Linked DNA regions of Homo sapiens. The protein of the gene in region 1 purifies or fractionates together with the protein of each later gene. This does not show direct contact. Each region holds a gene or a part of one and is shown in the gene's direction. Other genes may lie near its edges.

Region 1 (4,254 bases):
AATTAACCATTTTAATCGGAAAACATCTCATGTATCTTATTACCAAACCAGTGCCTTGACGATGGGATTTTCAGTGTCATTTGCCAAATTCGCAGGCACCGCAGTGGGGAGCCACTGCTCCCACAGCAGAGGCAATACACGGCCTAGCCTTGGGGTTGAGAAGTTCTGGGGACGGTGTCGGGGGCCCTGGGCCACCATTTTTGCATGGAGCCAGCCCTGCGCTGCGAGGGCGTGGCATCGGAGAGACCGTGGCCTCGTGGGCAGCATCGGCGGCCCCTGGGGACACGCGCTGGCTCAGTCCCCACCTCCGCCAGGGAAGCGGTCTGATGATACCCATTTCGCAGATGGGCAAATCCACAAGCCAAGTCGTGCCGCCCAGAAGAGGCAGAACCGGGATTTGAACCTAGGTTTCTCATTCTGCACCTGAAGAAATAAATGTCTGGTCCATGCGTGTGTTGGGGGGCGACGGGGACTTTTCTTCAACCAAGCCCGGTGTGCCCCCTCTCATTTTCTAGCACGTTCTTCTCCCCCATCTTTGCACTTATCTCAGACTCCCCTCACACACCTATCCTGGGTGCCATCCTTTCCCTCAGCCCACCGCCCATGTAGTCAGCCTCCTAAGCGCCCCTTCCACCTGTCCCCTCATCTCCCCACTGCTCTGCCTCGGTCCAGCCCTGGCCTTGGCAGGGGTCCCTGCCTGGGCCTCCCCACGGGCTCCCGGCCTCACAGAGGAGCAGCCACCTGTGCAAGGTCACACAGCAGGAGAGACACTTCTGGGATTCAGGACCCACCTGTGGGTCCGAAGTGGATTTTTTGTTTGTTTGGTTTTGGAGACAGGGCCTGGCTCTGTCACTCAAGCTGGAGTGCAATGGCACGATCTTGGCTCACTGCAACCTCTGTCCCCAGGTTCAGCCATCCTCCCACCTCAGCCTCCCAAGTAGCTGGGACCACAGGCATGAGCCTGGCTAATTATTTTTGTATTTTTTATAGAAACGGGGTTTCACTATGTCACCCAGTCTGGTCTCAAACTACTGAGCTCAAGCGATCCGCCTACCTCAGTTTCCCAAAGTGCTGGGATTACAGGCCTGAGCTACCACGCCCCGCCCTGATTTGGATCTTGCTCCTATTCCCAGGAAGGCCCATGTCCTAGCAAGAGAGACACCAGGTGGTGCGCACGCCCCTCCACCTCCAACTCCTCCACCGCCAACAAAGCCTGGGACCCAGAGGCCATGGGTCCTACACAATCTGGTATTTCAGGTCTATAAATCATGGGGGTGGCAGGGAGCCCATCAAAGCTGTTCATCCAGCCTGGTCTGCCGGCTCAGCCTCTTGTCCACCCCACTGCCGTGCCCCAAAACACACACACACACACACACACCCTCCCTCCTTCCTGGGAGACTAGCCCAAGGAGGGGCCTGGGCGTATATAGGGAGCCACGGTGGGTGGGGCTGGCCAGAGAGGCTGCAGACAGAGAAGGTGAGGAGGGGGCCCTGGGAGTCTGGGTATGGCATGAGGGGTCTGAGGCTCAGGGAGGGGCAGTGCCAAGTTCAGGCCAGTGACTGCCCCACCGGAGCCCGGGTGTCCTCTTGTGCAAAATGCCTCCCCACCAGGGCTGTGGGTACATCAGTACCAGCCTGGGCCCCGCAGAGAGCTGGAGCAACCCCTCGAAGCCAGGGTGTGGCTCAGAGATGGGGGGTCCGGCTGGCCCTTTACGCTCCTGGCCTCATCCCTGCTCATGTGTCCCAGGATGATGGCGTCTGCGGCAGCAGCGGAGGCCGAGAAGGGATCTCCAGTTGTGGTGGGCCTGCTAGTTGTGGGCAATATCATTATTCTGGTGAGACTCGCCCCAGTGCTGGGAGCCGAGTGGTTGTGTGGTGGGGAGGGGACAGTCCTGAGCTCGGGGTGGGGGATGAGGGTCCAGAACTGTCTCTCGGGCAGACTCAGTGGTCAGCACAGCCTGGGTTGAAATCCCAGCTCTGCCTCTCCCCAGCTCTGTGACCTTAGCAAGCGACTGTCCCTCTCTGTGCCTTCTTTCCTCATCTATAGACTGTGTCCTCATTGTGTGGGCTGTTGTCATGTGGATTAATCCATGTGTGGCCCTCAGCTCAGAGAAAGTGCCCGACCAATGCTGGCTATCACCATCAGCATCACTATGGATATAAAGTGACAGCCTGGTGCACAGGAGGCCACAAGAAGGAAAAACAACAGTGTCTTTCAATTAACATTGGGTTTTGGTTTTGTGTTTTTTGTTTTGTTTTGTTTTGTTTTGTTTTGTTTTGTTTTGTTTTTGAGACGGAGTCTCACTCTGTTGCCCAGGCTGGAGTGCAGTGGCTGATCTCAGCTAACTGCAACCTCTAACTCCCGGGCTCAAGTGATTCTCCTGCCTCAGCCTCCAGAATAGCTGGGATTACAGGCGCACACCACCACGCCCGGCTAATTTTTTTTTTTTCAGACAGATTCTCCCTTTGTCACCCAGGCTGAAGTGCAGTGGCGAGATCTCGGCTCACTGCATCCTCCACCTCCTGGGCTCCAGCAATTCTCCTGCCTCAGCTTCCCGAGCAGCTGGGATTACAGGCACATGCTACCACACCCGGCTACTTTTTGTATTTTTAGAAGAGATGGGGTTTCACCATGTTGGCCAGGCTGGTCTTGAACTCCTGACCTGAGGTGATCTGCCCACCTCAGCCTCCCAAAGTGTTGGGATTACAGGTGTAAGCCACCGCGACTGGCCGTGTGTTTGTTTTAGAGACAGGGTCTCACTCTGTTGACCAGGCTGCAGTGCAGTGGTGTGATGCTTGCTCACTGCAGCCTCCAACTCCTGGGCTCAACTGATCCTCCTGCCTCAGCCTCCCAAGTAGCTGGGACTACAGGTGCACATCACCACATCTAGCTAATTTTTTTATTTTTTGTAGAGACGGGGTCTCACTATTGCCCAGGCTAGTCTCAAACTCCTGGGCTCAAGCAATCCTCCCGCCTCGGCCTCCCACAATGCTGGGACTGCAGGTGTGAGCCACCTTGCCTGGCCCATTTGTAATGTTTATGGCCATGGCCATGTTCCCCTCCTCGGGGAATAACAGCACTGTCAAGGGAGGGCAGATGGACCAAGCATCTCCTCTGTGCCAGTCCACTGCTCCAGCCTTTCCACGTGGCATCCCCTTTTATCCCCGAAGAAACTGGCAGCTGGGGCGTGGGGGTCGGTTGTCTGGCTGGGCTGTCTCTTCTCTCCTGGCCTCTGCTCACCCTCATCGCTGCTCATGGAAGGCGAGGTCTTTGCCCACTTTACTGAGAGGGCAGTGGAGGCTCCAAATGGGGAGGGAACTTGCTCGTGGAGATGCCTGGTGCCAGGGCTGCTGGCCCCGAGCAGACCTTCCTAACCCACCGCTCTGTCCAGCTGTCAGGCCTGTCCCTGTTTGCTGAGACCATATGGGTGACAGCCGACCAGTACCGTGTATACCCACTGATGGGAGTCTCAGGCAAGGATGACGTCTTCGCTGGTGCCTGGATTGCCATCTTCTGCGGCTTCTCCTTCTTCATGGTAGCCAGTTTTGGTGTGGGTGCCGCACTCTGCCGCCGCCGGTCCATGGTCCTCACGGTGAGACTCCAGGGGTTGGGGGATGGGGACACTGAAAACGGAGTTCAGCATCACTGAGTCATAGTAGCAGGTGCAGCCCCAGCCACTAGTGTGAGTTCCCCATGGTGTCACACTCAGGGATCCCAGGCATCATCTCATTCAGTCTTCCCACAGCCCAATAACCCAGGCTTGAGTAGCAGAGCTGGGATTTTTTCTTTTTTTTTTTTTTGGTAAAGATGGGGGTCTCACTATGTTGCCCAGGCTGGTCTCAAACTCCTGGCTCAAATGATTCTCCTGCCTCAGCCTCCCAAAGTGCTGGGATTACAGGCTTGAGCCCCTCTACCTGCACCCAGTGCAGGGCTAGAATTTGAACCCCTGCTAGCTGCTTTCCAGAGTCCATGCTCATGAACTCTGCCAATAATAGCACAGCTACCATTTAATAATGGTTTACTACAAGCCACGAGCTGTTCTAAATGGTTTACTGGATTAGTTCATTTATTCCTCATAGTCCACCAAGAGATACTGTCATCATCATGACCCTGTTTGATGAAGATTGAAACTGAGGCTCAGAGAAGTGAAGTCACTTATCCAGGGTCACACATTGAGACAATGGCAGAGCCAGTTTCAACCTGAGCAGATCGGCTCTTGAGGCTGTGCTCTTAATCTCTGCCCACAAGAATAAC
Region 2 (3,286 bases), on another chromosome or scaffold:
AGCTATTCACTTCAGAGCCTTGGGATTGACTGGCAGATGGGATTGGGGTAGAGGAAGGCTGAACAGATGCACAGCCCTAGGGTCCCTGGAGCTCCAGGAAGCAGCTAGAGGCAGCCACAGTGGTCAGTGTGTGTTGGTAGCAAATGGCTGAGGATTGTCTTGTTGGAGAATCCTGAATTCATGAGAGAGCATTTCTAAAGAACCATGTTCTTGACACATTAAATCAAACAACAACAGAATTGCCCATTCAGATGATGCCTATAGGTTTTCCAATAATTGGCATCATATATAACCATTCATGCTGGTAGAGAAAAAGACTAGAAAGAAATAAGCCAAAATATTCACAGTGATCTCTCTGGGGACAGAATTATGATTGATTTTTTTGTATGTTTTATTTTTAAATATATTTTCTCATCTATTTTACAGTGATTTCTACTTAATGTTTTTGCTGAGAAATAGATATTTCTATCCAAAACATATAAAAGTGTTATTTCAAAATTCAGATGATTTTCGTATTTGTCTTTTTAATCCATCAGATATTTATAAACAGGGACAAGAGTGATGATGATAGAGGGTACTTAAAAAATAATTATCAAACTAACATTTAAAGGTGATTGATTTTTTTTCTTTGAAGTAATTTATTTTGTAACCAAAGTCAAGGTGGATTAAATTGATGAAAAGTTATGAACAATATTGATTAAAAATATTCCACATGGAAGCCCCGTCATATATTACACACATCACTTAGTCTCCAGATTGTCACTATTTATTGAAAGCCAGTTTCTAGGCCTTCCAGGGTACATTTATTATAAGTACTTTTTAATGCAGAGCAGATTCCTTCCGGCATACAGGTGGTGGTCTGCTGGTGATACATGAATGTTTAAAACTGCATGTTTTTTTGTCTTACAGAGTTGTCTTGGTTCAACTGGTGCCTTCCCGGGTCGTGTTTGCTCAGTCTCCTCCTCATTCTGTGCTTCAGGGAATCCTATGACAGACTCTATCTTGATGTGGTTGTCTCCGTTTAATAGCACAGACTTGAAGGAGTTTAAAAGGAGGCTGGAAATCAATACTGCACACTGCACATTTGCTCAGAATTGCACATCTAACAGGAAAAGAGGGAGAAGAAAGAAACTTCATTCAGAGGTTTTGTTAGGTTACAGATTATCACATTAATTTAATTACTACTAGGTAATAATAATGGGAGACTTGAGTGATAATAGGGGATTTTAAAACTCTACAGATGGCATACCTGTGCCTGCTTCTGGGGTTGGAAGTGTGACTTCTTACACATAAAGCACTACCTAAGTAATTCTCTCTCTGTTTTGTGCCAGTGCTAAACTACTGATTACTTGTAATTATGAAAAGAAATAAAGGGTGTCTATCATATGAAGATAACGCCTTCCCTAAGTCACATATCAGAATAGGAAGATATGCCACTAACTTCTAAAGAAGTTCAAACCCTGTATCCAATTTTAATGATAAAATAGCCAAGAGGTATATCGATGATGGAAATTAGCCACATGTACACTACATTTTTTCTAATAAAGCCATTTCTTATATGACTCCTTATTTTAATCAGGTCAGAAGCCCTTGGCCATCTTTACTATGGTGATCAGGTGCTTTCCAGTGACTTCTGAGCATAGGCACTGTGTCTCCATCTCAACTTATCCTTGTTTCTGTGAAATACAATTTCATCTACTAGGCCCTTAAATAATTATGTGAGGGTGTCTAAATGTTTAATATGATTACATTAAATATTGTATGAAAAAATGTAATTCCATTAGGATCTAGCACTTTGTTACAAGTGAAATGACAAGTCACATGGACATACTGTGTCTTCTGCCTGTATATGGTGGCATGAGATGTAATGTCCAGAGCCAACAATTATTTACCAGGGTTAGATTTTATTCAGTGACCCTTGTTTAAAAATAATAATTTATCACATTGAAACTTTCAGCTCTGTCGAATGATTTCTGAATTACATCCTGTGTTTCAGCTTAGGTTGTAAAATACTCCGTTCTCTGTGGAGTCAGCATATTTGAGAGGGCAGCGTTTTGCCAGTACCTATCTTCTTTCTACAGAAGATAGCTTTTTAAGAAATAAGAGTTCCACATTGAGTGGCTGTCAGACACAGATTTCACTGTGACGTAAAATACACTGCAGTGAGAATATGGTATCACCACTATTCATATTTACATCATTCCCCTCACACAGAAAAACCAACCCTTTTCCCAAAAAGTCAAGAATACTGCTATACCTTTATTATTCTCAGCTTCCTCCAGCCCTTCTTGTTTTTCCTCACTTGAAATTGAACCTTCATTGTCAGCTAAGTATATATACTTTTGTGTTTTCCTGGACAGAGTGCAAGTGGCTCTTATCAGCCAAGGTGGTGAAGGTTCAGGAAAGCTGGGCAGCACTGGGCCCTGCTCCTCTCTGCACCTGTGTGCGCCATGACACACCCACATGCAGATTCCCAAGTCTGTCTCCCCTCCCCCTTAGCAAGTACAAGGCTGTGCATTAACTCACCTCGGTCCTAGAGGAGTATCCTAGTACTGCTTGGCAACTTCTAAGACCCTAACTTGTGAAACTAGGGAAGTAAGAAACCGTTCAAATTTAACATCTGTCTTCAGTCATCTTTAAATCGTCTCTCTTTATAAACACTCTGCTCACTTAGCAGAAGGACTGAAGGAACTAAGGAACTTGCTAAAGAGAAGAAGAAAACAAAAGCTAGACTTAGTTCCAGTTAATTCTGTTATTCTTCTGAAATAAAAATGAAATAAAAGGAAGGCAGAATTCTCTTTTTTTTTTTTTTTAGACAGGATCTTGCTCTGTGATGGTGCAATCTCAACTCACTGCAACCTCCATGTCCCAGATGCAGGTGATCCTCCCGCCTCAGCCTCCCGAGTAGCTGGGACTACAGGCACGCACAACCATGCCTAGCTAATTTTTCTGTTTTTAGTAGAGACAGTGTTTCTCCATGTTGCCCAGGCTGGTCTCAAACTCCTAAGTGATCCACCCGCCTCAGCCTCCCAAAGTGCTGGGATTATAGGCGTGAGCCACCACACCAGGCCAAGAAGGCGGATTCCTTGAAGATGATTCAAAGCCAGCCATTAAGGATATCCGTAGACCATGACCCGGATGCTAAATAAGCACCACCCCTTCCTGTTCAGAGGGAAGAGAGAAAGGAGAGGGAAGAATTATAAGGTATTTGGTTTTAGTCCGAACTATTATGTTTGAGGATGTTGTGGTATAACATTCTGCAATAGTAAGATTTCTTGTGTAGAAC
Region 3 (3,500 bases), about 33 Mb from region 1:
GACTCTGGGGCTTCGTGGGGCCAGGAGAGAGCCGAAGTTGCGGCTGGCTGCAGGGGCCGTGGCCTTGTGCAGGAGGCAGTTCTGTGCTTTGCCCCAGGGCACCAACCGCATGGCAGCCCCACCCACTGTGGACCCAGAGGTTCTTTGAGGAAACCTGGTGTGGCACAAGTTTTAATTTAATAAACAGTTTGGGCACGGGGGCTCATGCCTGTAATCCCAGCACTTTGGGAGGTGAGGCGGGCAGATCACTTGAGGTCAGGAGTTTGAGACCAGCCTGGCCAACATGACAAAACCCCATCTCTACTAAAAATACAAAAAAATTTGCCTGGCATTGTGGTGTGTGCCTGTAATCCCAGCTACTTGGGAGGCTGAGGCAGGAGAATTGCTTGAACCTGGGAGGTGGAGGTTGCAGCGAGTCAAGATCGTGCCACCAAACTCCAGCCTGGGTGACAGAGTGAGACTCCATCTCAAAAACAAAATAAAAACAGTTTGGAGGGGTCAGTGCCCAAGCCCTCCTGCGCACGCACCCTCTGCCTGGCCCCTGCCTACAGCCTGTGACCCCTGCCTACAGCGTGACGCCCACCATCCGGGGACAGTGACTGAGGGGACGCAGCCGGCCAGGCCCGTGTCCACCATCCTGGCCCCACCATCCGGGGACAGCGACTGAGGGGACGCAGCCGGCCAGGCCCGTGTCCACCGTCCTGGCCCCACCATCTGGGGACAGCGACCGAGGAGACGCAGCCGGCCAGGCCTGTGTCCACTGTCCTGGCTGCCGAGTGGTGGGCTCCTCTACCTGCTTCCGCAGGGTGGGCCCTGGGGTGGGGCCTGTGCCGCCAGCCCTGCTGGAGTTGTAACAGCAGGGGTCCTCCCACAGGTCTGGGGTCCTCAGAGTCATCCCCTGGGCAGGTGGAAGGGCAGTGGGGCTGCGTGCTGGCTGAGAGCAAGGGCCCTGTGTGGCTCGTGGGAGGCGGCGTCCTGGGTGGTCAGCCAGCCTCTGCCCCGGCGAGGATGCTGCTTTGTCTTGCAGGTGGGCCTGGGTCCTCCAGGATGCCCTGGGCATCGCCTTCTGCCTCTACATGCTGAAGACCATCCGTCTGCCCACCTTCAAGGTGAGTGCAGGGAGGGCACGGCTGCGGGGCAGCATGGGTAGTGGGGGCCCTTCATCCTAGCCTGGCCCGTGTGGGGCTGTGGTCCTTGCAGGTCTGTGCTCCTGCTCACTGCCCTGGGGATGGCCGCCTAGGCCTGTTGTGAAGGGTGGGGCTTGAAGATTGGGTCCCAAAGCCCCCGCTGAGGCGGCCTGGGTGGGTGGCTGCGGGGCGGTTCCCGGCAGGGGCAACTCATGTCTAGATGAGGTGGTGGTGAGAGTGGTTGAATAGGGCTGGAGGAACTGGCCTCAGGTGGTACCGGGAGTGCGGGGATGTTGTCAAGCCCCAGGCGGCTGCACTCCCGTGAGGGCCCCACAGCACCCCAAGCAAGCGGCATTTGAATGCCCAGGATGGCCCTCTGTATCCCCAGAGCCGGCCCTGCGTGGCACAGGCCTCCGCCCTCCCGTCCCCGCCTTCCTGTTACGTGGAGACTCTAAAAGCCTGACTTTTGCCCGTAAATCCCTACCTGATGTTGCTTCCAAAGCTCCTCCTGCGTGGTGCGTCCCTGGCACTGGGCACGCTCTGCTCAGGTTCCTTTAAAGGCTGCCTCCCAGGAGGAGGCGCTGGGCCTCATGAGATGGGAGTGGGGGAGGCACGGGCCGGGGTGGGGGCCGCCCTCAGCCGTGGGCTTCGCAGGCCTGCACGCTGCTGCTGCTGGTGCTGTTCCTCTACGACATCTTCTTCGTGTTCATCACGCCCTTCCTGACCAAGGTAGGCGACTGCCTGTCCCTGCTCCACCCCATCACCCCGCTCCCCCGCCCCCTCGCAACCCCCGCCCCATCACCCCCCCCATCACCCCGCCCCCTCGTCCCGCCCCCTCGTCCCCCTCCACCCCACACCGTGCTCCCCTGCCCCCCACCCCATCACCCCGCTCACCTCCACCCCATCACCCTGCTCCCCTGCCCCATCACCCCCCATCACCCTGCCCCTTGCACCCCCCCATCGCATCACCCTGCCCCCTCGCCCCATCACCCCACTCCCCTGCCCCCCCACCCCATCACCACGCTCCCTCACTCAACCCCATTCTGTGCAGAGTGGGAGCAGCATCATGGTGGAGGTGGCCACTGGGCCCTCGGACTCAGCCACCCGTGAGAAGGTGTGTCTTCTGACTGCAGGGTCTCAGGTTGCCATGGGTCAAGGTGTTGCGCGGAGCGGATAGGGCTCGAGGCATCCCGCGGCCGGGTGAGGGTCCTGGAGGACATTGTCCTCTTCCCGTCTTTGCAGCTGCCCATGGTCCTGAAGGTGCCCAGGCTGAACTCCTCACCTCTGGCCCTGTGTGACCGGCCCTTCTCCCTCCTGGGTTTCGGAGACATTTTGGTGCCAGGTACTGAGGCGGGTGGAGCACACGGGTCCACGCTGTGGGGCAGGGCCCCGGGCGGCTGAGGTTTGCCTTTGGGAGTGAGTGGCCCGCACACCGTCGGCTGGAGATAAAGCCCTGAGGGTCAGAGTCGGGCAGGTTGGGGCCGTTGAGGCCTGGGTGCCTGGGCAGCGAGGGCATTGCCTGGGTGGGGTAGGGACCCCCTTTGTTCCTAGGGAGCGGGGAAGGCCCCCCGATTGCAGACAGCCTCACCCCATCCTGCTCGGGGTTGTGCAGGGGTCCTTGCTGGGGCCTGGATCCCGGGTCCCAGTGAGCTCATGTTGCTGCAGAAGGCAGAGACTGTACCCTCGCAGCCTCAGTGTCCCCAGGGTCCTGCCAGGTGTGTCTGCCTGGACTTTGTTCTCACTGTGGTCTCAGTTTACCCACTGAGAGTCATGGCAGCCCTGTCCCGAGCGAGCGTGTGGCCTGTCTGTGAAATGACAGCAGCCACCAGGCAGCGAGAGGCCCACGGCGCCCACAGGTGCTCAGGTGCCCGCCCGCTCCCAGGAAGCCCCTGCTCTGAGGCTCTGCGGGCCCGAGTAAGCCTCCGCCCTGTGCCTCCCCCAGGGCTGCTGGTGGCCTACTGCCACAGGTTTGACATCCAGGTACAGTCCTCCAGGGTATACTTCGTGGCCTGCACCATCGGTAAGTGCCTCGGTTGGGCCCGTGCTGGCCTCTCTGGCTCCAGCCCCACCCCGACTTAGCCTCTGTCCTGACCCTGACCCCTAACCCCAACCCCAACCCTAACCCTAATTCCAACTCTAACACCGTAACCATAACACCCTAACCCTAACCCCCTGGCCACTCCGGGAGCTGGGCTCGGGTGGCTGGGCCTGTGCCTGCATCCCCCTCTTTCTCATTCTCCCCGGGCCTGTGCCTGCAACCCCCTCTTTCTCATTCTTCCTGGGCCTGTGCCTCTGTCCCCATCTTCCTCATTCTTCCTGGGCCCGTGCCTGCATCCCCCTCTTTCTCATTCTCCCCGGGCCTGTGCCTGCAAC
Region 4 (3,500 bases), on another chromosome or scaffold:
GTCCTCTTATTTCAGGTTTTTTTATTCATTATTCTTCCCTGGGCTCATTGTATGTGGAACTTTATGTGTGTGTTTGGTCATTGTCCTTTGGGGAATCAGACTGCTGCTACAGAGAAAGAAAAAATTAGTGTCAACTAGCAAAAATGGGAAAAATCAAATGGTGATTGCATTTTTTCATCCATACTGCAATGCTGGTGGAGGAGGAGAAAGAGTTTTATGGTGTGCTTTAAGAGCCCTGCAGAAAAAGTAGGTATCCATCTTTCTTAGCTAATTTGCTATATTGTTCCATTTCTTAAAAATTATTATCCAGAAATTCATCTTTTTTTTTTTTTTTTTTTTTTTGAGACAGAGTCTTACTCTGTCACCCAGGCTGGAGTGCAGTGGCACGATGTCGGCTCACTGCAAGCTCCGCCTCCCAGGTTCATGCCATTCTCCTGCCTCGGCCTCCCGAGTAGCTGGGACTACAGGTGCCCGCCACCACGTCCGGCTAATTTTTTGTATTTTTAGTAGAGACAGGGTTTCACCATGTTAGCCAGGATGGTCTCGATCTGCTGACCTTGTGATCCGCCCACCTCGGCCTTCCAAAGTGTTGGTATTACAGGTGTGAGCCACCGTGCCCGGCCTCATCTTTCTAAAGTACCTAAAGTAAAAAATGAATTCCTTTTTAAACTGTTCTTCAATAAGAAAATATTTCTTTCATGTGCCCACATACCTTATATGATCTTATTTGACTTTAGTTACTATGATAAAGAAATAGACAAACCCAGGCATGGTGGCTCACACCAGTAATCCCAGTACTTTGTGAAGCCGTGGCAGGTGAATCACTTGAGCCCAAGAGTTTGAGACCAGCCTGGGCACCATGGCGAAACCCTGTCTCTACAAAAAATTATCTGGGCATGGTGATGCGCACCAGCTTCTCCAGAGGCTGAGGTGGAAAGATTGACTGAGCCTGGGAAGTCAAAGCTACAGTGAGCCATGATTGTGCACTGACTGCACTCCAGCCTGGGTGACAGAGTGAGAACCCGTCTCAAGGGAAAACAAAAAAGAAAGAAAGAAATGGACAGTGGATGGGGAAAACATCTGCCCTTTTATGGCATAAATTAATGGGAATAACTGGTCCCCTTGGGAGAGCATATACAGAAGAGATTAAGTAATTGACAGAAATATACCAAGTATGTCAGAGCACTTTAAGCCTGAATACTTTCAGGCAGTTGTGGCACACAGGAATAATCTTTATGAAAGTATCTATTTGACTCAAATTTTTATATCATTACCAGCTGGATAGTCTCAACTTACCATGTTAGAAGGAATATGGTGTTATACATCTTTTAATATTTGAGGCTTCGTCATCACCACCCCCCATACCCCCAAAATATTTATGATTCTCTTTTAGAAAGGAAAAAGCATAGTAGGTTCCATTATTTTATCATATGAGGAAAACTGTTACTCTTCATGGTTACCCTACTTCCTGGTACACACCCTTCATTCAGTGCCAAGGCCTTCACACAGAATTACCTCAGCTATACTTTTCTGTAATCCTGGCCCATCCTAGCTTCCAGGCCCTACCCCTGTATTTGCTCTGCCATCTTCTGTAACTGCCTAAATACAAAGAATTCTCATAATTCCCAACTCCGTGATGCTTTTCCTACTCTCGTTGATAATACTTTTTTCTTCTCTAACCAGATTATCTACCTCTTGATGGCGGTGGTAAAGTTTCATGATATCTGTACACATAGTCCCCAGCAGCCTCTATTACTCCTAACCCATCTACAAGGAGAAAAAAACCAAATCATTAATATGACTTGGAAGATACTTTTTCATCTTGCTCTGGCCACATTGCGTTTCTCATCCCTCCCCATTCCTTCACAGGTACTTTACTCTGACATGCAGAACAAGGAGCAGCTCCCTGAACACATCATGCTCTCTCTCGAGTCCTTCCCTTTCTATATAGTGTTCTTTTCTTCTGAAATAACCTTTTTCTCCCCAGTTAATTTCTACAAGCCTTTCCTAACTCAACACATACTACAGTGCACTTTTCATTCGACCTAGCAGTATTTATTGGGGACCTGCTATGTGTCAGGCACTGTTCTGGGGGTTGAGATTAAGAGAACAAGATCGATCAAGTCCTTCTCTCCTGGACGTTTGATTTTAGTTGAGAGAGACAAGATAATAAGCAAAGAAGAAAAATATCAAATAGTGAGACGTGCTATATAAAAAGTTAAAATAGGGTAATATAGGAGTGACTTGATACTTTAGATAGAGTGATCAGGGAAATATCTGATAACAATCAAAATCTGAATGACAAAAACAGCTGCATTCACTGCGTGATGATTGTATGTTAGGTATTGTTTGAAGTGCTTTACATGTGTTAGCTCACTTGATCCTCAGAACAGCCTTTTGCAGTTGTTACCATTATCCTCATTTGACAAAGAAGAAAACTGGGGCACTAGAGCCCATGTTCTGAACCACATGCTAAACTGCCTGCCTTATGAAAAGACAGTGAAAATGAGAAAAGAGAATTCAGAGTAGAGAGAACAACCACTGCAAGTCCCCTAAGGCTGGTTGGAGCTTGGCGTGTTAAAAAAAAAGAATGCCAGTTTGGCTGCACCCTGGAGGGCAAAGGAGAGCATGGGAAGGGAGGTGACAGAGGGAGGCAGGTTCCAGATCACACAGGACTTGAGTGAGCAGGGAAATTAGTTTAGATTTTATTCTAAGTGCTATAGTAAACCAGTTTTGGGGTTACTGTTCTGTGACATGGTTTAGGGGCTGCCATGTTTGGTCTCCATCATACTGTTGCAATTAGATGGCAGCTGGGGCTGGAGGCATCTGAAGCCTTTTTCACTCACATTCTGGTTCTTGGGCTGGGATAACTGGACCTGCTGGGGGCTGTCGGGCATCTCTCTCACTGAGGAGCTTCTTCATGTGACTTGGTTGTGCTTGCATACAACATAGCAATCTCGGGCTGGTTGGACTCCGTACATGACAGCTGTCTTCTCCTAGCATGAGCATTCCAGGAGACAGGAAGTAGGAGCTGCCAGTCCCTTAGAGTCTATGTTGGGAAACTGGCACAATGTCACTTTTGCCATATTCTGTTGGTCAAAATAGTCACAGAGCCAGGTGTTATTCCAGGGGAGGGGACTTAGATGCCACCTCTCAGTGAGAAAAGTATCAAAGAATTTGTGGCCCGTCCGGGCACAGTGGCTCACACCTGTAATCCCAGCACTTCAGGAGGCCAAGTCTGGCAGATCACTTGAGGCCAGGAGTTTGAGACCAGCCTGGTTAACATGGCAAAACCCCTTCTCTACTTAAAAAATACAAAAATTAGCTGGGCATGGTGGCACACATCTGTAATCCCAGCTTCTCAGGAGGCTGAGGCACGAAAATCACTTGAACCCGAGAGGTGGAGGCTACAATAAGCCAAGATCACGCCACTGTACTCCCGCCTGGGCGACAGACAGAGCGAGACCCTGTCTTAAAAAAAGAAAGAAAAAACAAATGGA
Region 5 (3,500 bases), on another chromosome or scaffold:
ACTCCTACCCTGTGGAGTGTGCTTTCATTTTCAATAGATCTCTGCTTTTGTTACTTCATTCTTTCCTTGCTTTGTGCATTTTGTCCAGTTCTTTGTTCAAACACCAAGAACCTGGACACCCTCCATCAGTAACATATTGAGAATTGACAACAGAAGTACAAACATGAGTAATGAGTCTATGAGTGTCCCTTGTACCAGATTCAGATTAGGTTTTAACACAATATAATGAATCCTGTCTTCTCAAGATATTTACATTTGTCTTATCTTCTTCAGATGTGCTCATCTTTTGCTACGGGACCCAGACAATACGATGGAATATTCTATGAATTTCGTTCTTATTACCTTAAGCCCTCAAAGATGAATGAGTTCCTGGAAAATTTTGAGAAAAACGCTCATCTTCGGACAGCTCACTCTGAATTGGTTGGATACTGGAGTGTAGAATTTGGAGGCAGAATGAATACAGTGTTTCATATTTGGAAGTATGGTAAAGAGTCATCCAATTTTGGCTTTCAGTATAGATTTTCATTTTTCAGTATAGATTTTCATTCTGTTAAATGTAACATAAAACTTAGTTCTTGGATGTATATTATTTTAGATACATACAGGTTAACTAAGACTTTTGAAAAGCAATACCAAAAAAATAAATTCAGTTCTTATTCTTCCCAGTGGTACACCTCTAACCCCTTGCTTAAACATTACATTATATTACATTATAAATTGGAAGACATGGCATCTCATATATCAAGCGATAAAATTGTGAACTAGACTTTAAACCTCAGAAAAATATTAAAATGGTTTGCTGTAAAGATAGTTCATGAAAAATTTAAAGCAGCAATTGTAAAAGTCCAAGTGGATTAAGATCACAAAAGGAAAGGAGAAGTATCTTTTCTCTTTTTGAAGCTAGGGGGCTGGATATCAGTATTTTAGCAGAAATAATTCAACCATTTAAGGGACTTCACAATATGGAGGTTTATAGGGGATGATGGTTAACTTTCAATCCTCACTGAACTCTGAGATTTAATAATTCTGTTATGTTTAGAGACCACATTTGTTTCATATCTGTACCCCCAGAGTTTTGAGGAATTCACTGTCATACTACTCTAGGGAGGTAAAAGAAAAGGAATGAAAGAGAGTTCTTCCCGTGTTGAAACTAACCTACGCCTGGTTTAGTAGAGGAAGGAGAATAAGTTACAAGAATGCCCAGAATGCTTGTTACTCCAGTGTCTACATCAGGACTTGATGATACCTAAAGAATTTTTAATAATTTCATTTAGTGTTTGGTTTAGGGTTTTTCCCTGTTAATAGAAAAAGCCCCATTAAAATACATTTTATGCTTTAGATGTGGTACAAGTTGTATCACAGCCCATTAAAAAAACTAAGTTCTGATATACCTCACTTAAGTTGTAAGATAGGTATTCTTCCTTATCCCAATGTAAACCATATGAACCTCTCTTGCCATTAGTCTTATGAGGTCCTAATGGTAATTATAGTACTAGGCCCATATGTTGGCAAATGTATATAACTGTTTGGGTAACTTAAATAGAAGAGAAATAAGTGCTGGGGAGAAAGAATGGATGACAATAAGAGAATCAGCATTATTTCTTTGAAATCTGTTTGTTCAAAGGAGAAGAGGCTTAAAAAGTACGGTTTAACTTCACTCATGTTAAATTTGATTCAAGATGTTTTAACTTCACTCATGTTAAATTTGATTCAGGGTGTATCTGAACTTGACTACCCACCACCACCAAAGAAAAACAGTCTTTCTCTAAACTAGCACTATAAGTTAAATGCCTCAATCAAGTAAGAATAGTTCACATATACTGAGTATTAACTAGTGCCAACCGCTATATTCTAAACTCTTTTCATGTGTTAATTTAATCCTCATACAACCCTGGAGGTAGATGTCTTATTATCTCAATTTCACAGAAAGTGAGGCACAGAAAGATTCAATAACTTACCTAATTCACAAAACTGCCTACTATATGGTTGAGCCTATAAAGCCTATTATGTGGCATTACAGTTAGTTTGCATTTCTACTGCCCTTTTTGTCCTTGAGCAACTTCAGGGCAGATGGTCACATCTGTTTACGTTGGTGTCTCCAAAGGCCTAACACAAGGTTCTTATATGGCATCAATGACCATTGCTGATGTGAATGAAACCCAGAAAAGTACAGGTGATTTAAAATTGAATTTTTTATTTTTCTTAATTCTTTTCTTCCCACAGATAATTTTGCTCATCGAACTGAAGTTCGGAAAGCCTTGGCCAAAGATAAGGAATGGCAAGAACAATTCCTCATTCCAAATTTGGCTCTCATTGATAAACAAGAGAGTGAGATTACTTATCTGGTACCATGGTGCAAATTAGAAAAACCTCCAAAAGAAGGTAAGTCCTTCCTTCTTAGTCACTGAGTTTTGATGAATAAAATACTAAAGAACTTAAGTGATCAAAACTGAAGTTCCTTTGGAAAAAAATAAAATTAATTCTTTGTTTTATATAGAAACATACAGTGATTGTTGTGGTAAAAATAAATGGGAGCTCTTACCCCATCCTTTAAAAAAATGAGCATAAAATAATGAGATATTTTTCAAATTGAGACCTTGCAGATTTGTAAAGCTTAACTGTGTTATAGAGAAAGCTGACATGGTCAGTAGAGGTTGAGAATTTGTGCATTGGGAGCAGAGAACGTGTTGATAGGTAAGGGATAGCATAAGAAGTTTTGCCATAATTTTAAAATAATATGATCTTTAAAATGTAAAAGTATTTCCATAAATTATAACTAATCTTAAATCATTAAATACAGCTTTGCTTATAAAACTGAGTATTTGGGGGAAACAGATTAAGTGAAACTGCCAAGCTATATTACTTTAATCTAACTTTTGTGTCTTCTTTCTTGTTTCTCAGTTTGAAAGTAATTGCTTAAGATTTGTCTTCTTGCTGATTTCACTTCTTGCTGACTTAAAGAAACTATTACCTCAATCCAGTTTTAAATAAAGGTCAGATTAGAAAAGCATAAACTTATTTAAATGTTATTTTACTTCCCCCATTATTCCCAACTTTGTAGTGTATTTAGGTTACAAAAAATTTACAAAGTCTTCCTTGGATCTTTACCTACTTAGGTGTCCCCTCAGCTCTCAGCACTATCTAAATAAAATAGTTCACTTCTCTGACAGTGTCAAATCTTGGTTCTCCTCCTCTGTGTACATCACTGCTTGGAAATTTTTACATGCTTTTCCTACTTGTCCCAGAGTTTCTTTCTCTCCACCAGCCCTATACTTCTGTCCAAAGTGTACAATACTTTTCAAGTATTTACCTGGATATTTAGGAAAAATAAAACCATCTCTTTAGGTTTGTCTTTTTTCCTCCAAAATTCAAAGATATCACTTCAGGTCCACTCTTTGCTTTGCTGTTCCTGTTAAAAATGGAAACTTATAGGGAGAAATTATATGAAGAAAAACATAGTGGAAATTGGAAAGAATGAAAATATAGATTGGAAAATTCTT
Region 6 (3,500 bases), on another chromosome or scaffold:
TCACTCTACCCACAGCATTGCAGGGAGGTGTAGCACTTGTTATTTTTCCCCTGGTAAGCCATTGTCAAGTGGACTTCCCTGGAAGTGATTATGTAAGCAGTACTCAGTACATATAGTTGACTTATTTCACCAGATTAAATTTTAAAAATTCAAATTTTGTCATTTTTGCGCATTGGGAGGTGATAAGTTGACATTAAGCATCTCTGGGTCACTTCCTTTCTGACTCTCTGCTTGTAGCTGTCACTGTGGCCTGATGACATAGCTCTTTTGAACATGTGCCTGTCAGTCAGAATATCATTCTGGGCCTGGGTCAAATTTTAAGACTAAATCTACGAGTTTCATTTTGTCTTTCATTATCTAAGAAGTAGAGTCAGAGAAGAAAAGGGAAGTAATGAGAGCTTTCTTATTCAGCCAACAAAGAGTCAGGGAGGGGAGAGAGATGAAAACAGTGAGTCCAGACTATAGAAACTGCAGGGGCAGGGCTCTTCCGCTGGCTGAGTAGTGGCCCGGGACCTGGAGGAGAAGGCTGCCTTGCCTGGTGCAGTTACAGGAATGAGCCCATCCAGATTTCAGCCATAGAGAACAACTTACAAGTACATATGCCTGTGATGGTTGCAGATTTTTCTTTCCTCTTTTAGTTTAGCAACAGAGCAGGATTTCTCAGAGTTTAATGTAGTGAATAAGATTCCCTTGGCTTGGTACAGTTCTGGCTGGAGTCCTTGGGTTTGGGACCAAACTGTACAATTTGAAGGAATTGGTTTCCCTCAGCAACTGCCGCAGGGGTCCAGAATGATTCATTCCTCATTCCCAGGTCCTTCAAAGGGCCGCAGTGACGCTGGGGCCGTGCAGCTGTCCCCTTTGTGTCTGATGCCCTGGATGCACTTTTGACCTTGGAGGCACAACCTCTCCACCATGTAGAGGCCTGTAAACTATTCCCAGCCCCTTGCTGAACTGGATTCATAAGGCACTGGGTGGCAGTCCACTGAACTTTCTGGGTCTTTCTTAGGCTATACCAGTGGTTCTTAATTGAGGGTGATTTTGCCTCTCGGGACTTTTGGCCATCTGTGGAGAAATTTTTGGCTGGGAAACTGAGGGGTTGAGGGTAGGAGTGCTACGGGCATTCAGTGAGTGGAGGCCAGGAATGCTAAACACTCTGCAATGCACGGGACAGTCCTCACAGCAAAGACTCATCCAGCCCGAAATGTTGGGAGTGCTGAGGTGGAGAAGCTCCGGCCTAAGTCATGGCAGCTGACTCCCCTTCTGGGGAAATGCCTTTTCAGTCTGTCCCAGTGATAAGGCAGAACCCAGTCCTAGTGGTTAATATCCTGGATCCTGACCCTACTCCTTCCTGTTTTAGCAAAGACCTGGTTTGCCCTGTAGAGAAAGGTTAGCAGATGTTCTTGGCTGCTGGATTAGGGAGGCTGAGTCTGGGTCCTTCAAACCAAAGCATGCATTAGGGTTGATTTCTCTCCCAATAGATGAAATGTGTTCTTGGAGGGCAAAATATCTAATTTTTTATGTATAAAGCACAAGTAAGATGTACAGTATAAAGTATTAAAATGTCATGGAGTGTGTTTAGGGAGAAACTTGTCTACAAAGGCTCCTGGTAGAGGGGCAGTAGTGGAAAAAAAAGGTGGAGAAGCACTAAGCTAAAGCAACCTCTTCCAAGTCTAGGCACGCATGAGAGTTTCTGCTTTTCTGTTTGAAATTGGCCCCTGAAGGGAACAAATAAGTAAGCCTTATTATTTATTTATTTATTTATTTATTTATTTATTTATTTATTTATTTTGAGACTGAGTCTTGGTCTTTTTGCCTAGGTTGGAGTGCAATGGCATGATCTCAGCTCACTGCAACCTCCGCCTCTTGGGTTCAAGTGGTTCTCCTGCCTCAGCCTCCCAAGTGGCTGGGATTACAGGCACCCACCGCTACGCTCAGCTAATTTTTTGTATTTTTTAGTAAAGACGGGGTTTTACCATGTTGGCCAGGCTGGTCTTGAACTCCTGACCTCAGGTGATCCACCCGCCTCGGCCTCCCAAAGTGCTGGGGTTACAGGCATGAGCCACTGCACCCGGCTGTAAGCCTCATTTTATATCCCCTCTCTCCCACCATTTTCACACCTTGTCCTTAGCTTGGCAGATGGGTATATATTTTGTGCCCATTGGAACAATTTCCTCTTTCCCTTCTTTTTCCCTAGAAGGTTGGAATGGACCCCTTATGGGAGATGGAGGCTTGTCTGGGAGAAGTAAAGCAAGTGTCGTAGGTAGGCAGACAGCAGCTGCCTGATTCTTCCCTGCAAGGGAAGGGAAGGAGAGAAGGTTCTGCTCGGCGCTTGGCCCTATATCAGAAAAACCTGGGCCCCACATTTCTGTCAGCCCTCTAGATCTCTGTCTTGACTAGCTTTCTTTGCTACCTTCATGCAGGGGAACAGTGGCCTCAAACCCAAGGACAATGAGTTCACGTCCAAACCCTGGCACTGGCCTATCAACTATCAGGTAGGATCCAAGGCTGGGGCTCCTCCCAGGAAATGGAGCCAAGAACAAGAGCAGGGAGACCGGTGGAGGCGGGGGTGGGTGTACTAGGGCGGCAGGGCGAGGGGCCTCCTGGGATGGGTTGGCCAGAGGTGGGAGTATCTGTTTTCTGCCCTAATTCTGACCCTGCTTCCCAGAGAGCTCGTGTAGAATTTGCCAGCCTGAGGTTCGTGTCCAGGCTCCCTGTCTGTGGAAGGTGACCATCTTCCTCCCCCTAATGGGTGTGGCCGAGGATGGGCTGGGCCTGGGTCAGCAGGGTGGTCTCTATTCCACAGGGCCTACGCTTCTCAGGGGTCAATGACACAGATTTCCGAGTCTATCTGCTTGGCAACCCGGTGAGTGCCTAAACATTCCCGGCTCAGGCCCTGGAGCACTTGCCCGTGGAGAGCGGCTGCGTTCTCATCTGCCCATTCCCATTTCTGCACAGGTGGTTTGGTGGCTGAATCTGTTGAGCATCGCCCTCTACCTCCTCTCAGGGAGCATCATTGCTGTAGCCATGCAGAGAGGGGCACGGCTGCCAGCGGAGGTTGCAGGTCAGGTCCTCTGGGCTCTCCCTCCCCTGACCTGGCGGCAGCAGGGCACCTGCACCCCTGGGGAGGGCCGGCTGCCTGCTGATGGGCCATCCTTTGCGTTTACCACCCCACACCTTCCCTTATCCTTTGCTTTTGAAAGGTAACAACCCCCAAGTACCCAGTGCTGTGTTAAACACTTTACTTCCTCCCAACAACACTAGAGCGTTGGCTATTATGACCCCCATTTTATGGATTAGGAAACCAAGGAACCATGAGATTAAGAAACTTGCCCCAGGACATACAGCTAGTAAGTGATAGAGCTGAGGCTCAAACCCGTGCAATCTGACTCCACAGCCCTCACTTTTAGCCCCATGCTGTGTACAGAGCTGCCCATCTTTTCTGCCACCTCCTTGTTCCATGGCCCTGTCCTCTCATGGGCTAGAGAGGAGCCTCCAGGGTT
Region 7 (3,500 bases), on another chromosome or scaffold:
GGTGAAACCGTCTCTACTAAAAAATACAAAGAAAAAAAATTAGCCGGGCATGATGGCGGGTGCCTGTAGTCCCAGCTACTTGGGAGGCTGAGGCAGGAGAATGGCGTGAACCCGGGAGGCGGAGCTTGCAGTGAACCGAGTTCGCGCCACTGCACTCCAGCGTGGGTGACAGAGCAAGACTGTCCTAAAAAAAAAAAAAAAATGCAAAAGCCAATGGTAGACCTGCTTACATTTGCAATCCCAGAACCTAAATGCAAAGATTATAATTTAATTTTCTTTATTACTTCCTTACAGAGCCCTAGAGTAGAAAGATAAACTAGGAAAAACACAGCAGCTCTAAGATACTGCACAGTTACTGGGTTGTAGTCACAAAACAAAATTGTTCTCTTCTCCCAAAAATGTGAGTAGAGACTAAATGGAGCCTGTCATTTATCTAGAATGATGTCAGACTCTCCAAAATCACTTACCAATAAGAGAGCAACTTAATAATCTCAATAAAGGCCTCATATTTTTTATTTCAGCTTAATGACTTTGTTGGTGACCTTTCCTGTTTCTTTATTTTTTTCTCTTACCTGTAAAATTGAGAAAACAACAGAAGCCTGCTTTGCAGAGAAATTTTGAGAAGTAACTATAATAGAACATTGAGATCCATGAGTGAAAAGTATGATAAAATGACAATGAATGAGATCTTTCACATCCCATTCAAACTCTTCTTGACTCCAGCCAGGGCAGGAGGGCTGTGTCATTCACTTTCTTATCCTATACCACGATATCCACCCACATTCCTTCTCACAGGCATTTGAGTGTCATTTGTTTAGATTTCAGAAGTGTGTGTTGATTGTTTCTAGACAACTCGAGAGATGATCGCTCGTTCTGCTGCTACCCTCATCACACATCCCTTCCATGGTATGTTTGCAGTTGACAACTGACCTTTCTTTTATAACCTGATCTCTCCTGACCACTTAGATAGGTTGACGTGGGAGTTGACTAAAATGCCTTGCCTGCATGTTTTTGTTTGCTTGCTTGTTTTGGCTTTTATCCAATTTATCCAGATAGCAAAATGTCTTTAGGTGGAAAATCTTTTTTTTTCCCAGGGCTATCAAAATCTATCTTAACATAGTTTTTTTTTGTTTGTTTGTTTTTTGTTTTTGAGACGGAGTTTCACTCTTGTTGCCCAGGCTGGAGTGCAATGGCACAATCTTGGCTCACTGCAACCTCAGCCTTCCGGGTTCAAGCAGTACTCCTGTCTCAGCCTCCTAAGGAGCTGGGATTACAGGTGCATGCCACCACGCCTGGATAATTTTTGTATTTTTAGTAGAGATGGGGCTTCATCATATTGGTCAGGCTAGTCTTGAACTCCTGACCTCAGGTGATCCGCCCACCTCGGCCTCTCAAAGTGCTGGGATTACAGGTGTGAGCCACCGCACCTGGCCTTAACATAGTTGTAAACATCTTTTCTCTATATTCCACAGTGATCACTCTGAGATCTATGGTACAGTTCATTGGCAGAGAATCCAAGTACTGGTAAGTATTTTTGTTTTCACATACTCAAGGAGATCTTTTGAAGCCAAAGTACTAGAATAATACTACTTTGTATTTTTATGATACCCTTACAATTTGTAGAACAAATTCGTATCTGATGTCATTTGATCTGCACAAAAAACAATAAAATGGGAGAAAATATACCCAGGCAGGTTTAGTAGCCTACGTAGGATTTCAGAGTAAGTTGCAGAGCCCCTGACTCCATATGACTATACCCCTAGGTAGTTAATATTTTCACTTCTATCTCCAAATTTAGCTATCTTTGCAGAGTGAGAGAGTGCTAGAAAAGTGTGAGGGAAGGAGGTCGTGGATTTGACCTTGTCCAATGTGATAATTGAAATTATTTTGTTTATAGCTCCAAAAGAATCTTAATATATTTTACCTTTTCTTCTTGTGTACGTAGTGGACTTTGTGATTCCATAATAACCATCTATCGGGAAGAGGGCATTCTAGGATTTTTCGCGTGAGTAAATGTTGATTAGTGTGTAATTTTTGCATGAGTGGGAAACGTTTTCTGAAAGTAAGAATAGTGAGTCTTTGTTTAATCCTTGGGGAAAACGTACTCCCTGGGCTTACCTCACGTTACATTCTATTTAGGCCCCTTATTTTTTTTTCTTTTTTCTCTGCAGAAAGGCATATTTAGGCCCCATATGACTAGAATTATCTTGTAAAGATCCCAAACCTTTACTTCTAGATACTTAAAACATTTGAGGCCGGGCGTGGTGGCTCACGCCTGTAATCCCAGCACTTTGAGAGGCCAAGGCGGTTGGATCACCTGAGGTCAGGAGTTCAAGACCAGCCTGGCCAACATGGTAAAACCCCACCTCTAGGTGTGGTGGTGTGTGCCTGTAATCCCAGCTACTCGGGAGGCTGAGGCAGGAGAATTGCATGAACCCGGGAGGTGGAAGTTGCAGTGAGCTGAGATTGCACCACTGTACTCCAGCCCGGGTGACAGAGTGAGACTCCGTCTCAAAAAAATAATAATAATTAATAAATAAATAAGGAATTTCTTTTTTTAACAAAGGACTTAATTCCAAGTTTCTACCCTTGTAGTAAACTCCCAATTCTATATAGATAATAAAATGAGAAAAATTAAATGTTGAAAAATGGGGAAATCATCTTAACTTGTATTTTCCTTACCGTAAAAGAGTAAGTTTTTGCAAGGCTTGAATTTACTTTGGAAGAACTTAGACTACTACCCTCATTCTTCTATGAGGAAAAATTTTGCATCATTACCGAAATGGTGTTTTTTGTTTTTTTTTTTTTAATTTTCAGAGTATCTCCCCATACGGATTTTGAATATCATAAATACCCTGTGAGATAGGCAGGACAGCTATAATTAGTATCACTTTAGAGATTAAAAAACATTGATGCTCTGAGAGTTTCATCTGCTGCCTGTCACATCGCTGCTGAGTGCTGGAGCTGGCATTTGAAGCTGGTCTTCAATCCGTGGGGAAATGCTCTTCCCACTATTCCATGCTGCCTCACCTAGGTCACCCAGACCCTAGAAATGTGGTTTTTGATGCCTCTCATCTGTATCTGTACTTGGGACCATTCTTGCTTTGTAATTTTTCTCGTCTTTTGCTCTGCCAAATATGAATATCAGATAGCTTAGCAAAATCATTTTTTTAAGCTAGTCAAAGCAAAACAATATTTAAGTCTCTTCTGCAAAGCACCTCGCAAATCTTTTGCCTCCCTGCTTACAGTTATGAATAGTAAGGTGAGCCACTGAGGGTATAGCCGACCTGCATTTTAAACATAGGAACAAAAGTCACTGGAGATCAGCTTCAAGTACAGCTGTGTTAACGAGAATGAACTAGGTATGCGGGCTGGATTCTGGTGTTTGATTCCTTTTTTACTTCCCTAGAATGTTTTGTGACCTCTAATTATTTGACAAACATTTGTACTGAAGAGCCTGTCATGTTACTGATCACATTTTTTGGTTCTTATTTTTATTG

The links.
Region 2: the proteins of UPK1A (region 1) and SLC49A4 purify together in Homo sapiens (affinity purification with mass spectrometry; one large-scale study listed by BioGRID and IntAct). This does not show direct contact.
Region 3: the proteins of UPK1A (region 1) and SPPL2B purify together in Homo sapiens (affinity purification with mass spectrometry; one large-scale study listed by BioGRID and IntAct). This does not show direct contact.
Region 4: the proteins of UPK1A (region 1) and ALG11 purify together in Homo sapiens (affinity purification with mass spectrometry; one large-scale study listed by BioGRID and IntAct). This does not show direct contact.
Region 5: the proteins of UPK1A (region 1) and NIPSNAP3A purify together in Homo sapiens (affinity purification with mass spectrometry; one large-scale study listed by BioGRID and IntAct). This does not show direct contact.
Region 6: the proteins of UPK1A (region 1) and POMT2 purify together in Homo sapiens (affinity purification with mass spectrometry; one large-scale study listed by BioGRID and IntAct). This does not show direct contact.
Region 7: the proteins of UPK1A (region 1) and MTCH2 purify together in Homo sapiens (affinity purification with mass spectrometry; one large-scale study listed by BioGRID and IntAct). This does not show direct contact.

Annotation. Positions count from the first base shown.
Region 1 is NC_000019.10:35,665,063-35,669,316, forward strand, and holds the start of UPK1A (uroplakin-1a), read left to right. Parts: upstream 1-1,454; 5' UTR 1,455-1,476; intron 1,477-1,746; 5' UTR 1,747-1,750; coding exon 1,751-1,834; intron 1,835-2,885; exon of another isoform or gene 2,886-3,391; coding exon 3,392-3,592; exon of another isoform or gene 3,593-3,623; intron 3,624-4,254. UniProt on the Homo sapiens protein: Component of the asymmetric unit membrane (AUM); a highly specialized biomembrane elaborated by terminally differentiated urothelial cells.
Region 2 is NC_000003.12:122,878,354-122,881,639, forward strand, and holds the end of SLC49A4 (solute carrier family 49 member 4), read left to right. Parts: intron 1-909; coding exon 910-1,025; 3' UTR 1,026-2,786; downstream 2,787-3,286.
Region 3 is NC_000019.10:2,342,184-2,345,683, forward strand, and holds part of SPPL2B (signal peptide peptidase-like 2B isoform 2 precursor), read left to right. Parts: intron 1-1,027; coding exon 1,028-1,109; intron 1,110-1,781; coding exon 1,782-1,856; intron 1,857-2,178; coding exon 2,179-2,241; intron 2,242-2,369; coding exon 2,370-2,469; intron 2,470-3,069; coding exon 3,070-3,147; intron 3,148-3,500. UniProt on the Homo sapiens protein: Intramembrane-cleaving aspartic protease (I-CLiP) that cleaves type II membrane signal peptides in the hydrophobic plane of the membrane. Functions in ITM2B and TNF processing.
Region 4 is NC_000013.11:52,018,898-52,022,397, forward strand, and holds part of ALG11 (GDP-Man:Man(3)GlcNAc(2)-PP-Dol alpha-1,2-mannosyltransferase), read left to right. Parts: intron 1-15; coding exon 16-246; intron 247-3,500. UniProt on the Homo sapiens protein: GDP-Man:Man(3)GlcNAc(2)-PP-Dol alpha-1,2-mannosyltransferase that operates in the biosynthetic pathway of dolichol-linked oligosaccharides, the glycan precursors employed in protein asparagine (N)-glycosylation.
Region 5 is NC_000009.12:104,750,683-104,754,182, forward strand, and holds part of NIPSNAP3A (protein NipSnap homolog 3A), read left to right. Parts: intron 1-273; coding exon 274-484; intron 485-2,223; coding exon 2,224-2,382; intron 2,383-3,500.
Region 6 is NC_000014.9:77,279,384-77,282,883, reverse strand, and holds part of POMT2 (protein O-mannosyl-transferase 2), read left to right. Parts: intron 1-2,420; coding exon 2,421-2,492; intron 2,493-2,803; coding exon 2,804-2,863; intron 2,864-2,955; coding exon 2,956-3,061; coding exon of another isoform or gene 3,062-3,200; intron 3,201-3,297; coding exon of another isoform or gene 3,298-3,347; intron 3,348-3,500. UniProt on the Homo sapiens protein: Transfers mannosyl residues to the hydroxyl group of serine or threonine residues. Coexpression of both POMT1 and POMT2 is necessary for enzyme activity, expression of either POMT1 or POMT2 alone is insufficient.
Region 7 is NC_000011.10:47,629,060-47,632,559, reverse strand, and holds part of MTCH2 (mitochondrial carrier homolog 2), read left to right. Parts: intron 1-848; coding exon 849-906; intron 907-1,472; coding exon 1,473-1,524; intron 1,525-1,945; coding exon 1,946-2,005; intron 2,006-3,500. UniProt on the Homo sapiens protein: Protein insertase that mediates insertion of transmembrane proteins into the mitochondrial outer membrane. Catalyzes insertion of proteins with alpha-helical transmembrane regions, such as signal-anchored, tail-anchored and multi-pass membrane proteins.